Homo sapiens: one gene and its partner. The protein of the gene in region 2 purifies or fractionates together with the protein of the main gene of each other region. This does not show direct contact. Each region holds a gene or a part of one and is shown on either strand. Other genes may lie near its edges.

Region 1 (3,749 bases), on a different chromosome or scaffold from region 2:
CCCACACATCTGTATGGTGAGATCTCACACATTTTTAAAGAGTGCTCATTCACACCAATTAAAGAAGATCATTTCCTGTGTCTACTGATTTAGAAAGACAGCTGCTAATACCCTGAATTCTACCAGACTAAAGCTTTATTTTTTCAACAGATGTTTTACACTATTCGTTCAACCCTTACGACCTACCAGGCTCTGTCCTGGGCACTCAGTGGAAATGCAAACCCCAGCTTCCTGGAGCCTGGCACTAGCTGTCACTGCTGTCCCAACACTGGCATTTGACGCTACTGAGACGAGGTTGTCATCAAAATATAAACGACATCATTTTATGTGCCTATTTTGAAATACGAGTCTCCCCAAATGTACCAGTCACTGAAAACTTCCCGAGCTAAAGCTGGCAGGCCACGTGAACTGAAGGCTGAGGCCACATGAACTGAAGGCTGCGCGGCCCTGCGGGAGTGGAGGTGCGGTCCAAGCCCGCAGGCAGACACACCACGCCTCGTCAGGGTCTGTCTCAGGGTGGCATTACACAGGGTATTCGGAAACGCCTAAGTCGCCTGGGAGAAAACCTGCCGTGCATTCCTGGGCCTCTTCACAGACAGAAGGATAATTACACAGGAAGATGGCAAACACTAGGGTTTTGACATTTGACAAGACAGACTCTTGGGTCCCCAAGGAATGAGCGCACCCGCCCCCCAGGCTCACAGGCAGGGCAGGTATTCACAACAGCCCCACACTGCCAACATCTGGGCACCCACCGACAACAGCATGGATAAATGCCTCGTGACGGCTCGTACGAAGGAGCAGTACTCAGAAGTACAGGGGAGATGCTCACAGACAGAAGTGCTAAGTGAAAGGAGACAGCCACAGCCCAGCACAGGACAGGCGAGGGTAACCTGTGGGGACCAACGCTGGAATAGAACAGGTTTACCTTCTGAGGGGGGCAGTAAACTAAGGAGAGAGGCAAGGAGGGCTTCCAAAAGTTCCTCCACTGAGATCCAGACTGCAAACACAGCAAGCTGTGCTTAAGATTAGAGACCTTTACTATGGTATGCACGTTCTCCCCAGCTTAAATAACACTAATAAAAGGAGCCTGCTGGGAGGTCGGTAAGAAAAACACAATGTAACAAAACTCTGGGGACTCTCCCTTCACAGTGCTGTGACTTTACAGAAAGCTATTTCCTGTGTCGGTCACGAGATGGTGAGGTAGGGCCAGGGATAAGGGTGGCACAGACACCCCCGGAACCTGGCCTGAGAGCTGCTGCTCCTTCCAAGGCCACACAAATTCAGGGAGAACTCTCTCTGAGGAGCGGGCTTCCTGTGGATTTCCCATGTCACAGCCTTTATTTCTCTACCCAGGACGCCAAGGGCTGCTCGACAGATGAGCTCCAACTCTCCTTACTGGTGTGAACCAAGGAGGCTGCCATGCAGCCAGGGGGCACAGCCTGGGGGCTGCTGGCAAACACGCCTCCTTCATGAAACATTTCCCATTCTTGAAAACAACAGACAGATCCTGGCCCATCCCCAGCACACACGCCCTGAGAGCACCAATGCAGGGGAAGTCCACAAACAACCTGTCAGACAGAAATGATGAATGAAAGGTCAACTCTGAGATGTGAAATTAAATTAAGAATGAGGATTAAATGACTAGAAAGCAACGAGAATGACCAGCCAATCCTTTATGACACATTTAAAGATAAAACAAAAACCAAGAACCAGAATCTTCGTCTTCAGAACTATGGACTTTGGTCTTTCTTTGAAGGAAGTCTGTCCCATGTACCACAAGAGGATCTTATTCCTCGGGCTGTTCATCTTCAGGAGAAGGTGGGAATGAAACACCAGCCCCAAATCCACATGTCCTCCTCAGAGCAAGCAGCCCTGAGCTGGCCATGGAGGTGGCACCCACAGCCAGAAAACATCAGTGACAAGTGTCCATGGGACATTGGTGGCTTGGAGTTCTGGGCTTTACATTAGGACTCCACAGGCCTATACTCATGGAAGGGCTCTGGGAATTCTGCAATTTCTGCAGAAAAGTCCCTAAACGTTCACCAGATTCTCAAGGGGATTTGTAACCTAAAAGTGGCTAAGTACTACCGGACCAGAGCAAATGCCACATGATTATACAAGAAAAAGTAACAAGGTTGTTTCTGTAGATAAAATATTTTTACAAAGGAAAAGAAAGAAGAAACCTTCGCTTGCTGGGTCCATTTAAAGGCATCGTAAACCTGGAGAAAGCAAAACTCAGCTTTTATGAGTGGTTCTGTTCAACACTCAAGATGCCACCTACTGGTATTAATTGTAAAAACCCATTATGATTGATCACAAGTAATATGTTTATTTTTAAAAGTAACTTACTATCTATCTTGTCTTTTTCGTATCAGAAAAGGTGCTGTTAGGAAAAGAAAACGAAAGTACACCACCAAGTTAAAGAAAGGGAAGCTTGGGGTACAGATTCAGCTGCCTCACGAAGACTGAGCTGGACGGGCGTGGAGAAGGTGCTTGTCTGTCAAGGACGTCCCCGTAAGGAGCGGTGGCTGCAGCAGCTGCTCGCTGGGCTGTGGCCAGGGCAGGCTTGGCCCCTGGGATGAGAAGAGAGGCCTGCTTGTCTCCTGAAAACCGTTCATGATGTAAGGAAACACAGTGATGCAAGCAGCACAGAGCAGTGCTGTGGAAGGAGCGGTGGACAGGCAGCTCGGGACAGGCCATCCACGTGAAAACACCTCCGCTCACTCAGCCATCTCCTGAGTGCCTGCGCCTCCCCCTCACTGGCTATTTTCAAAAGGGACAGGATGCTGGCTCTTACCAAAGTCTGTGTGACTGCTCATCCATCCGATGGCTTTGATAGACACCAGTGCCAGCAGTCCAGAACCCACGAACGACCCGACGCCAGAGAAGAAAAAGAACAAGCCCATTATGGCACTCTGCATGGACTTGGGGGCAGCTGAGTATGCAAATTCCAGGCCTGAGGAAAGAAAAGGGAGGGTCGTTTTTGTGAAAGGGGCACTTTAACACATGGGATCAAAGCTTTCACCTAATATAGCAGAGGAAGCGTGGGGTCTCCTAGGGACTGAGTCCTGCAGACAGGCACAACCTCTTTTCTATTAGGAGGACGATGCTTACTAGCGACCAAGAATCAATGGCTATGGGCCAACTGTTCATTCTCCTAGCCATTAGGATAATTCCTAATAAATTCAATGAGCAGAAAGTTAAACTCCTTGCTCTCAAGCTTAAAGGTAATGTGATTTGTTGGCTCTTAGACTTTTGTGTTCCTTAAAGAGATTAGAGAAAAAATTTTCCTATATTGTCAAGGAATGGGAGTTTGAAAACAAAGTACACACACTAAACTGGGAAATCTACATAAGGATTCTATTTCAGAGGCAATATACTTTATCTTTTTTTTGTTGAGACGGAGTTTTGCTCTTGTTGCCCAGGCTGGAGTGCAATGGCAGGATCTTGGCTCACCGCAACTTCCGCCTCCCTGGTTCAAGCGATTCTCCTGCCTCAGCCTCCCGAGTAGCTGGGATTACAGGTGCGTGCCACCATGCCTGGCTAATTTTTTGTATTTTTAGTAGAGACAGGGATTCACCATGTTGGCCAGGCTGGTCTCGAACTCCTGACCTCAGGTGATCCACCCGCCTCGGATTCCTAAAGTGCTGGGGTTACAGGTATGAGCCACCGTGACAAGGGCAATAGACTTCAAAACTATTTTGGCAGGCCCATCTATAAATTTAGATTTTTATAACTAGACACGG
Region 2 (3,010 bases):
CCCACTCAGCTCAACCAAGTTCACCAAGGAGTTCTAAGGGCCAGTTTCTGCACCAGCACACTCAGGGCTCATACAGGACACCCACCCTTCAGCTGTCACCAGCACTCAGAGGAGTCATAAAAAGGAGCATAATTCATTATTTATTACATCAGATTAGGGGAAAAGCATTGTTTAGATGGCATGGTCAGTAGCAAGGGAGGTGCAAGGGCATCACCTGAGAGACTCTGCAAGGAGACGGAGGCCTTGGGGGACTTCCCCAAAGCCTGGGCCTGCTGGGGAGGAGGAAGGGGCCTGAGAACCTGAAGGCTGAGTGAGGCCGAGCACCTGCCAGGAGCACAGAGCCTGGGGGAGAGAGCCTGGCCCTGGAGCAGACCCGTGCCACTACTGAAACCTAGCCCTGTCCACTGGGCCAGGCCTTCTCTATGCTCTAATGATCCCCCCACCCTCTTGCAGCTGACAGTTTAGACGATTTCCCAGCCAGGTGGCATGCATTATAGAAAAGATTTCTTTCTATTTTTTTAATCAGTCAAATATATAATCATAGAACAGGGTGATGAAGACCAGGTTGGGCTGGAACTTGGTTCCCTGACTCATATCGGCTACAACTCCCACCTCATTGCCCCACGCTCCACCTCTGGACAAGAGGTCCACACATTCTGTACCTGATTTACAAACTGTACATGGGAAGCAAGAAGGTTCATTGTTGGAAGCGTTGGTGTAATCCACACCCTCTGTGCACGGGTTACAGGCTCCAGTATGTTCTGATCTATGAGATCCTGGGAAGGAAGAGAAAAGCCAATGAATGAGTCACCACAGAATTCCCAGAGGCTGACAGTGGTGGGGAAACTTCTTTTTTGGCCCTCACTGGAATTGAGACAGAGAAATCCACTCTTCCAGGCTTGGTCTTGTCATCCATTCAGCATCTATTACATACCTTTGACTGGCACTGCTGACAGAAATATAATACAAAATTCAAATTCTATGCAAAATTCAAATTCTATGAGAGCCATATTAAAATAGTAAAAAGAATGAGGCCAAATTAATTTTAACAATATAGTTTTAACCTAAAATATCTGAAATACTACATTTCAACATGTAATCAATACACATCATTGAGATATTTTACTTTTTTTACGCCGTCACTCACAAAATAACATCCAACCTACTGTACATGTGATCTGCCCATGCTGGTCCACCTGACCTGTTTGCTGTCCACTCACCACAGTGGCCCCCTGTCTTCGCTCAGTCTCCCCAAGCCCCCGAAACCTGGGGTTCTCATTCCTTCAGGGCCTTCTCAAGAGCACTCTTCCTGGCTCTCTGCAAGACTGGCCCTGTCCAACTTTAAATATCAGCCCAAATCACCATCCCCGAGAGGCCCCACCAACCTTGTCTATCTCCTGTCACTTAACTATTCTTCATGGTTCCCATCAGGACATCCTGACTGTTATGTATATTCATGTGTCTTTTTTTTTTTTTTTGAGACAGAGTCTTGCTCTGTCACCTGGCTGGAGTGCAGTGGCACAATCTCGGCTCACTGCAACCTCCAACTCCCTGGTTCAAGCGATTTTTCTGCCTCAGCCTCCCGAGTAGCTGGGATTATAGGCGACGCACCACCACGCCCAGATTTGTATGGAACTACAAAAGACCTCAAATAGCCAAAGTGATCTTAAGCAAAACAAACAAAAGAACAAAGATGGAGGCATCGTACTACCTGATTTTAAAACGTGTTACAAAAGTATAGTAATCAAAACTGAATGGTAATGGCACAACAATGGTAAATAAACTGATGGAACAAAATAGTGAACCCAGGTATAAATCAATGCATTTACAGTTGATTGATTGTGAGAAAGATACCAAGAACACAAAATGGGGAAAGGACAGCTCTTCAATAAATGGTGTTGAGAAAAGTAGGTATTGACATGCAGAAGAATGAAATAAGACCTTTATCTCACATCATATGTAAAAATTAATTCAAAATGGACTAAAGATTAAAACATAAGATCTGAAATGGTAAAACTACCACAAGAATACATAGGGGAAAATTTTCATGATGTTGGTCTGGGCAATGGTTTCTTGACTATGACCCCAAAAGCACAGGCAACAAAAGGAAAAACAGACAAATGAGGTTACATTACACTAAAAAGGTTCTGCATGACAAAGGAAACAATGAACAGAGTGAAGAGACAACCTACAGAATGAGGGTCAATATTCAAAAGATCCAAGATTTTGGTTAAAATCCAAAATACACAGGAACTCAAACATCTCAATAGCACACAATCAAATAATCCAAGTAAAATGGATACATGGGCGTGGGACCTGAATAGACACTTCTCAAAAGGAGACATAGAAGTGGCCAAAAAGTATATGAAAAAAATGCTCAGCATCACTAACCATCAAGTGCCAAATATCACTTCACACCTGTAAGAATGGCTATTACCAAAAAGACAAAAGGTAACAAGTGTTGATGATGGGGAGAAAAAGGAATGCTGGTACACTGTTGGTGGGAATGGAAATTAGTACAGCCATTATGGAAAACAGTATGGAGGTTCCTCAAAAAACAAAAAATAGAACAACTATATGATCTAGCAATCCCACTATTGGGTATACATCCAAAGGAAATGACGTCAGTATATTGAAGAGATATCTTCCCTCCCATATGCATTGGAGCATTATTTACAATGGTCAAGACATGGAATCAACCTACGTGTCCATGGATGGATGAAAAGTTAAAGAAAATGTGACACATAGATACAATGGAATACTATTCAGCCTTTAAAAAGAAGGGAGTTCTGTCATTTGTGTCAGCATGGATGAAGCTGGAGGATACTATGCTAAGTGAAATAAGCCAGGCACAGAAAGGCAAACACCTCATGATCTCACATATGTGGAATCAGAAAAAGTTGGTCTCATAGAGGTGGAGAGCAGAATGGTGATTACCAGGGCTTGAGTTGGATGGTGGGATGGGGAGATGTTAGTCAAAGGATACAAAATTTCAGTTAGACAGGGAGAA

What was found.
Region 1: the proteins of TNFRSF10C (region 2) and SLC15A4 purify together in Homo sapiens (affinity purification with mass spectrometry; one large-scale study listed by BioGRID and IntAct). This does not show direct contact.

Annotation. Positions count from the first base shown.
Region 1 is NC_000012.12:128,796,459-128,800,207, forward strand, and holds part of SLC15A4 (solute carrier family 15 member 4), read right to left. Parts: intron 2,960-3,749; coding exon 2,801-2,959; intron 2,607-2,800; exon of another isoform or gene 1-2,606. UniProt on the Homo sapiens protein: Proton-coupled amino-acid transporter that mediates the transmembrane transport of L-histidine and some di- and tripeptides from inside the lysosome to the cytosol, and plays a key role in innate immune response.
Region 2 is NC_000008.11:23,112,423-23,115,432, reverse strand, and holds part of TNFRSF10C (tumor necrosis factor receptor superfamily member 10C precursor), read right to left. Parts: intron 777-3,010; coding exon 663-776; intron 1-662. UniProt on the Homo sapiens protein: Receptor for the cytotoxic ligand TRAIL. Lacks a cytoplasmic death domain and hence is not capable of inducing apoptosis. May protect cells against TRAIL mediated apoptosis by competing with TRAIL-R1 and R2 for binding to the ligand.